2 separate regions of the Homo sapiens genome follow, and region 1 is linked to region 2. Evidence: fine-mapped expression QTL. A gene starts in region 2. The other region holds a variant in brackets. All regions are shown on one strand. Distances are from middle to middle.

Region 1 (4,397 bases), 100 kb after region 2:
GCAATTGAGATAGGCGTCCAAGATTAGCTTCACAGCACTGACCTCTATGGTGATCTTGAATACGAAAGCCTTCATAAAAGAAAGGAGGCTGTTTCCACAGCTTCCTCATTACCTAAGGTATTGGAATGCAGAACATCAATTATCCCCTAAAATATTCCCCAAAACACTTGTCACAAAAACAAGCATTTTTTTTTCAATCTTCAAAACTCAAGATTTCATAGGAGCAATTTGACTGAATCCCTCAGGTACCTAATGTCTCATTTTCTGAAGCTGATGTCAATCTGCTATATCTTTATTCTGGAGAGCACATGCAATTACAAGGGTTATTGCCACAGTTTAAAGGGAAAAACATTTCCCCTGTACCTCCAAATTATCCCACTTTAATTTCAAAGATTTCCCCATGAAATCATCCATATCTTCACATATTGCCAATAATAATTGCGCTATACTTCTGCAGAATGGTTAAAACCAGTGGCTATGGGTCCAAGTACACTTGATTATCTTTTTATATTTTTCAGGTTCTAGAAATATGCATACATTTATATCATCTAGTTCTTTCTTCACAGGACTTTTGTAAACGACTTCTCCCACAATCAGCTGATGAGGTGGGGTGTCTCTAGTTTTACTGGATATGAAACATCCTAGCATCATGACTGCAACTTTTGATCCTCAAGAAGCATTCCTTTTCCTGCATGATTATAAAATTGGACTTTATGGCCGTGGTCTATCGGAGTTTGTTGTATATTTCTTTGAGACCAAGATTGAAGTAAGAAACAGGTGCAATGACTACTTGGAAAGAATTTAAATTACTTCTGTTGAGGAGGAGGAGGAGGAGGGAAGATTAAATCTAAAATTATTAAGTATTCCTGAAAAAAGTCAAAGCTAGTTACCAGGATATTAAATAGATTCAATACAGCATCCAACCATTTAGGAAAGGTGATGCACTTGGGGCCTGAGGATATGATACTATCACATTTACGTGGTCATAAGGACCTTTGAAATTCAGATTAGGTCTGCTTATCAGCAGAGACTATTTCAGCACTAAATCTAATAAATATTCCAATCAGTGCAAAAGACCTCCTGTGTTCCATAGCTCATGTCACTAACTGCAGCAGCTTCTGTTGGGTACACCTTGGCATGATTCCAGCTGCCTTCCCAAGCCCATTTTAGCAGTTAGGTATCTATAAAAGGAGGTGGAAGATAAAGTGGGGAGGGGTGGGAAGGAGCAAGGAAAGATGAATTATGGGCGGAACATATAATAATAACTCGGCCACTTTATTTCTATTCCTTAAATGGAAAAACAAAATTTGATGCTTTTTGGTCTTCACATTTCTAAAAGCCATTATCAGATTTCATTTTTGAAATAAATTAACAGACAAAAAATATTTTGTTTTGTTCTGTGCCTCTGTTGTCTGAGTGCCCCTATAATAAGACATGCTTATCTGACAAACATCAGAGGAGCCATGCCCCTCTGAGAAACATCTTCACTGTTACTGAGATTTGGGTTTATTATAATGGGGTACTGGGCATTTTGCCCACTAACTATATAGTAAATATTTCTGTGATTAACCTGAGCCCCATACTAAATATACAAAAATTCAGTGGCTCCTTATTATTTGTGGATTCTACGTCCACAAATGTGGATTGCAATTGGAGATGCCTGATGGGCATGCACACGAGGATGTTCTGTTTCTTGTTTCTGCTCATAGAGTAAACAAGTGTCCGGGTGCGGTGGCTCACGCCTGTAATCCCA[G/A]CACTTTGGGAGGCCAAGAAGGGCGGATCAAGAGGTCAGGAGATTGAGACCATCCTGGCTAACACGGTGAAACCCCATCTCTACTAAAAATACAAAAAAAAAAAAAAATTAGCTGGGCGTGGTGGTGGACGCCTGTAGTCCCAGCTACTCGGGAGGCTGAGGCAGGAGAATGGCGTGAACCTGGGAGGCAGAGCTTGCTGTGAGCCAAGATGGCGCCACGCCTGGGCTACAGAGCGAGACTCCATCTCAAAAAAAAAAAAAAAAAAAAAAAAAAACGAGAGAGAAAACAAGTGTCCTATTTGCAGTTTGTTTGGTGCCACAGATTTTCTCATTTTTGTGCTTTTAGTTGGTAATTTTGCTGTTTAAAACAGCCTCCCGAGAATAATGTCAGTGTGCTACCTGGTATCCTAAGCACAAAGATGCTGTGCTGTGTCCTGTGCAGAAAATCCACGTGAGACAAGCTTTGTTTGGGTGCGAGTTACAGTGCTATTGGCCCTGAGTTCAATGTAAACCCATCAACGTTATAGGTAAAATAAAGTGTCTTTAAATAGATACATGCCTAAAACAAGGTTAGGTTGGTGCAAAAGTAATTGTGGTTTTTGTCATTAAAAAATTGCAAAAACCACGATCACTTTTGCACCACCCTAACATTTTTCTTCACTTCTCTTGACGCAAATTATAGATTCAATCACCCAGCACTTACAAGCAAGCATTTCTTTATCTTAGGTTGACCTTAAGAACTTCTTTGTATTTACTAACTTCCTTTAGGACTCCTCCTCTTTTGTAGTAAGACGGCAGGATGAAATACAATGAAGAGGGTACCATATTTTAAAGATAAGGCTGAATACCACACACCTGGCATGATGAGAGGCCTATACAGAAAAAAGAGCTTCTGAAGCTTCTCTATGCCACACAAGGGATGAAGGTGGCCTCCAACAACTGTGACCTCCAACCGGTGGAGCTCATGTGTGATATGCCTTTTATGTCCTTTAGCACATTTGTTACCCACAATAACTTTACAAGCCAAGTATTATTATCCACAATTGCTAGAAGAGGAAACCAAAGCTCCCTAAATGCTCAATATCATGCTCATCACTCTTTCAGCTCTGTATGGGATTCCCAAAGTGAACCTCATGTGTATTTATGAACTTGGCACTCTCGGATACCATGCAGCACCCCTCATTTTCTGTGAGCTCTGCTTGCTGAGGTGAAGACTCTGCTGCAAAGGGGCCCCTGGTCCTGTGAAGCTGGTCCCCCTGCTGTGCCTATTCTAAGGAATGGCCATTGCTGATGACATTTGCTGGTCTGTGCCCAGGCATGGTTTCCTGGCGCTGCAGAAGCCACTGGCTGGTAATCTGCCTATGGGTGTCCACAAACCCTCAAGTACAGAAATTTGCCATCCTTCAGTTTGACAGGCATTTTAATGGAATGCTCTTTCAGTGTATCTCCCTAGCATTCAGGTACGCGTTTCAGGGGCCAGGCTGGAGGGTGATCTAAGTGACAGGCATGGTACAATGGTAAATTTTGCCCATACCCTCAACACTGATCCTCTACTTCTAGGCCATACTAAGGTGGCTTTTAAAAATTAATATATGATAATAGTACCTATTTATGGGATACATGTGATATATGGATACATGCATATAATGGGTAATGATCAAAGCAGGGTATTTAGGATATGCACCACCTCAAACATTTATCATTTCTTTGTGTTGGGAACATCCCAAATATTCTTTTCTAGCCCTTTTGAAATACACAATACATTGTTGTTAACTATGGTCACCTGCTGTCCTATTGACCATTAGAACTTATTCCTTCCAGCTAACTGTATGTTTATAGCCATTAGCCAACCCCTCTTTATCCCACATCCCAGCCCTCCACACACACACACACACACACACACACACACACACACACACACACACACACACACACACCCTTCCCAGCCTCAGGTAGCCGTCATTATACTCTCTACCTCCATGAGATCAAATTTTTTAGCTTCCACGTGAGTGAGAACATGCAATACTTGTCTTTCGGTGCCTGGCTTATTTTTAACATAATGTCCCCCATGCTCATCCATGTTGCCGAAAATGGCAGGATTTTATTATTTTTATATCTGTTCTCTTATTAATAGTATAACTTCTTACAACTTAGATTTAAGCAGAGGCCCTTCTACATATAATTGGAATTTTATATGTCCACATTTAAAAAGAGTTACCTTGGGATTGATAACATACTTCTTTTGCTCCTAAGTAAAAATTTTTATTACTATAAAATGTTTCACAAATGTATCAAAAATACTACAATTAAAACTACTGCTCTGATCAACACACTTTCGTGCTCTTTTGTCTGGTATAGTGAAAGGTCGGTCCTAGAAGACCTGGATTCATTCTTCTCAGCCACTTAATTTAATCCTGGATGATCACATACTGTTTATACTTGGGATTCCTTATCCACAAAGTGAGGGATCTCTCACAGTACCAAGGAACCCCTCTGGCCCCCTTCAGTTCTAAAATTCTTTTCTTTTCTTTTTCTTTTTCCTTTTTGAGACAGAGTCTTGCTTTGTTGCCCAGGCTGGAGTACAGTGGTGCTATCTCAGCTCACTGCAACGTCCGCCTCTCGGGTTCAAACAATTCTTGTGCCT
Region 2 (4,397 bases):
TGCAGTGAGGGGCTGGGCGCGGTGGTTCACGCCTGTAATCCCAGCACTTTGGGAGGCCAAGGCGGGTGGATCACTTGAGCTCAGGAGTTCCACACAAGCCTGGCCAACATAGTGAAATCCCGTCTCTACTAAAAATACAAAAAATTAGGCGGGCATGGTGGCAGTAGCCTGTAATCCCAGCTACTCAGGAGGCTATGGCAGGAGAATCACTTGAACCTGGTGGTTGGAGGTTGCAGTGAGCCGAGATCGCGCCACTGCACTCCAGCCTGGGCAACAGAGTGAGACTTTGTCTTAAATAAATAAACAAACAGATAGCAGTAAGGATGACCTGAATTAGTTCATGTTGAATTTTTAACTGATGAGGGGAAAGATGATGTTGCTCACAGTTTTGCTACTTGACAGTACTTTCTCTACTTAAAAGAACAGCATATTTTAGTAATATAATGTATGCTTTCCAGTCTTTCTAACTGAATACCCAAATTATAGTCCAGATACAAAACCATTCGTTTTCACAAATGAGCCATCGACTTCAAAACTATATTTAAATTTCAGTTATACATTTTTCTGAATATTAAATCAATGTATTTATCTATAACACATTTTTCCAAAACAATCTGAAATTATGCAAGTTCACCTGAAGAGTTTCTCATGGATAACACTGAAAACTGTTTAAACGGGCAAAAAGTGTCACAAATAAACTTTTCAAAAACTTTAATTACATATACTCCTGCGAGCTGTAGACTAGCATTTGAAACAAACACGGACTGAGCTAACAGGCTTTTACATTTACTTCTAAGCCAAGCGCAAGATAAAAATATGCAGGACTTGTGGTAGGTTCTCGATACCATGTTATTCATTTACCGCTAGCCAGATCTCCCAAAAGTAGCAACGGCTGTTTCTAAAAACCTCATAGATGGTCAAACGAAAAGACGTGCAAAAAATCCTGATGGCTGCCAAGGGGATGGCAAAACCGCAGAGGCTACGTGCTCCCCACCATCGGAGTAGCTGCCCTCGGAGCTGACAGCGCAAACGCCGTTTACAACCCCGGCTCACTGCCAGGCGGCGGGTGAGCTCGGCTTCCCTCTCACTCCGCTCCGGAGGAGACGGAACACAGAAAAGAACAGGATCTTCCTTGTTCGTGAAGGTCCTCCGCTTTCTCCTAGACGACGGGATTTAGTACCGCCTGGGGCCAAACACCAGCTTGGGCAGCAAAACAAAGGCGCCTCCATTCCAGAAGAGCTGCCGGGCTGCAAGAAAACTACTCTGGGCCCTCAGTGCGCCGGTCCCCTTTGTTTCGTGTCCCGGTCGCAGAGGAGAAGGAAGAGGGAAGACTGCGCGGGAGAGACGCAGGCAGCGGGAGGTTGGGGGCCAGGGTGGGAAAGAAGAGGGGAACGACAGCCTGTGTGTGGTGTGTGTGTTGGGGTGGCGGTAGGAGTTGCAGCGACTTTGTTATTTGCTTCCAAACACAGACTCCACGAGACCGCACTGCAGCCAGTGCGGTTGTCTGGGGGACCCCGCCGACAACCCGTGCCTTTGCCCGGCTCCTGGGGCCCCACCGAGGGGCGGGAGGGCAGGGCGGTCCCGCGGTTTACTTACGCTCTTATCCAGCTCGATCTTCACCTTCTTCTGGGAGATGCTCTTCTGGATCCTCTTGCTGAAGCTGGCGTTGCCTGCCGCCCGGCCGCACCGCTCACCATCCTCCCGCAGGCAGCACAGTTGCCCGGGGCCCGGCCCGGCCGCCCCCGGGGGCCCAGCCGCTGAGACCGCCCCCGCGCCCGGCACCTCAGCCCCGGTGCCCGCGCCGGTCCCGTTCCCCGCCGAGGCGGCGGCGGCCGCGGCAGCGACCACTGCGGCCACTGCGGCGGCCGCATCCCCGCCGCGGCTCATCTCGTCAGGCGTGAAGCCGTTCATGTCTCCGAGCTCCCGAGGCCGGCGCTGACAGAAATCCCCTCTCTCCTGGCCGCTCCGCCTCTCTCCGCTCCGGCAGCGGCAATTCACTCTGCACACCAAGTTAGACAGCGGCACGGCCAAACACCAACTGTCCCGGGCCTGCTGGTCTCTGCTGGCACCGAAACAGTGGACAGTGCTGAGGGCCGGGACGCAGACTCGAGCGTCTCCTGGAGCGGGGACCCCGCTCACTGTCACATGGGGACTTCAGCAGTTGGACCGCTACGCCTCCGCCTCCCTCCGGCCCCGGGACCTGCGCAAGCGCGACGCGCCCCCTCCCGTCCCGCCCCTTTCTTTCTGCCGCGCGGCCCCATGGGAATTGTAGTTCTCTGCTGCAGAGTCAACCTGAGCTCCGCCCTGACCCCGCGCCATGAGGGACGGAGGAACTACTAATCCTAGCATGCATAGCGCGGCCACGGACCCACTTTTTTTTTTTTTTTTTTTTTTCAGTACCGGGAAAACAGGAGCGTGTGATTGGGGTTTACAGTGTTTTCTCTCGCTCTCTCTGTTTCTAGGGAATTCGGGCTGTGTTTAGCTGCTGGAATATCGTAGAATTGGTTTTCAGAGAAGTTCCTCGACTCCTGAGGCGAAACATAAAGGGATGGGAGTGGTGTGGGAAGTGATCGTGTGGGGAAAAAAAAGTTTCGAGCCCGTTTCGCATTTGTGGAGACAGAGTTTTTGGTGTGACCACTCTTTTGTGGGAAACCCAAACCAAGGAGAACTCAGGAGAATTGGCGCTCTTCGGTCCTGGAGGTTCCGCAGCTAACATCCCGGCTTGACCAACTATCGAGGCCGCAAATTAATAGGGCACCTCCTGGGAGGAAAACGCCCATCCTGACTTCTCAACTGTGACAGGTCCCCCTCACAAACGCCTTGCGGGGGGGTGGGGGGGCGTTTCTAAACACTTGCATGTTCTTACAAGGGAAATGTTTTTATTCTTGGGCGCACCAAGTTGGCCGCCTCCTGAGGTGGAGTACGGACCAGTTGACAACAGGGCTCCTTTTCACCTCCACGCCCAACCTTTTCCATTTCTCCTCAAACGGTTTTGGAGAAGGGCGGAGTCATATCATTTTAAAGGAAACTTGGAACCTCACCAATACAAACGCTGGTCGAATGTTCCCAGAAACTTCCCTGCATTAGCTCTACCGGGCGCGGGGAGCAGAAAGCGCATTTCCTGAGTCCTGAAAAGCGCGTGCGCGCCTGTGTGCTGCCGGCGTTTGGGCGCGCCTGCTTGTATGTATGTGTTCGCGGGCGCGCGCGTGTGTACGTGTGTGTGCGCGCGTACGCGTGTATGTTCCTGCGCGCTTGCGGGGACGTGCTTGTGGAGGGCGGAGAGAGGGATGGGCGTGGCTAATATGAAAGCTGCATCTTTACTAGTTAGCTACCATGCGTCATTATTTATCAAAAGATATATGCTGCTTAAACACAAATACGTTTTAAAATATATTTTAGGCAGTAGGGTTTTGGGTTTTTTTTTTGCAAGTTCTTTTGGTGAGTAAATTTAGTGATAAATGATTTTTTTTTCTTTTGAGACAGTTTGCTCTGTCGCCCAGGATGGAGTGCAGTGCAGTGGCGCGATCCTGCAACCTCCGCCTCTCGAGTTCAAGCGATTCTCCTGCCTCAGCCTCCCGAGTAGCTGGGATTACAGACGCGCGCCACCCCACCCAGATGATCTTTTTAAATGCAAAATGCCATCGACGCAGAAAATCAAAGGTATCCATTGTATCTGTGCGTTTGAGTTCTAGGATATGACAAAGAAAAACAATTTAAATATTACGTAAATTCAGTAGGAAAAAGAAAGATGATGACTGATAAGTACATTGTGTACCTCCTTAAGCTGTGCTGTCCAGTAGGCTGTCCTCTAGCCATATGTGGCTACTCAGCACTTGAAATGTGGTTGAGACGGAAAAACTGAATCGTTAATTGAATTTGAATTAAACAAAAACCAAAAACCTGATGCTCGATTCAATTGTTGGAATACTTTTAAGTGTGTTTGCAACAACTCAGATATATGAATCTGTTTTTCCAACTTAAATTTTATGAACTCTAACTTTAGCATATGAATTGAGATGTGCTGTAAGTATATATCAGCTGGACTTTTTTTTTATTTCTGGACTTACTACAAGAAATTTTCAAAAAGAATATTGAAGTGCACATTAAAAATTTTTATATATGTTTAAATGTTTTGGATGTAATGGGTTAAACAAAATATTACAATAAATTGTACCTGTTGCATTAGATAACACTGGCTTAAAGTATTACAACACAGTAGGGCGTGGTGGCTCACGCCTGTAATCCCAGCACTTTGGGAGGCCGAGGAGGGTGGATCATCTGAAGTCAGGAGTTCGAGACCAGCCTGGCCAACATGGTGAAACTCCGTCTCTATTAAAAATACAAAAATTAGGCAGGCATGGTGACACAAGCCTGGGGTTCCAGCTACTTGGGAGGCT

The links. PIP is the estimated chance that this variant, and not a neighbour inherited with it, causes the effect. A credible set is the group of variants that fine-mapping cannot tell apart.
Region 1: its variant is the best candidate, but not a certain one, in a credible set for the expression of SAP30 in whole blood (TOPMed, PIP 0.51).

The regions. Positions count from the first base shown.
Region 1 is chr4:173,266,162-173,270,558 of GRCh38, reverse strand. All of the region lies in intron 2 of GALNT7 (polypeptide N-acetylgalactosaminyltransferase 7), which reads right to left. MIR548T (microRNA 548t) reads right to left here and starts at 2,399; the gene lies at 2,326-2,399. LOC124900812 (a long non-coding RNA gene) reads left to right here. Exons shown (of 3, transcript XR_007058367.1): 2 at 1-4,397. The variant G/A (reference allele first, on the strand shown) is at 1,754.
Region 2 is chr4:173,368,697-173,373,093 of GRCh38, reverse strand. It overlaps SAP30 (Sin3A associated protein 30), which reads right to left and starts at 2,140. Exons shown (of 4, transcript NM_003864.4): 1 at 1,597-2,140. The coding sequence starts at 1,911. SAP30-DT (SAP30 divergent transcript) reads left to right here and starts at 2,396. Exons shown (of 4, transcript NR_183973.1): 1 at 2,396-2,802; 2 at 3,484-3,660. RefSeq lists enhancers at 1,030-1,329, 1,033-1,596, 2,680-2,919 and silencers at 1,450-1,829, 2,110-2,279.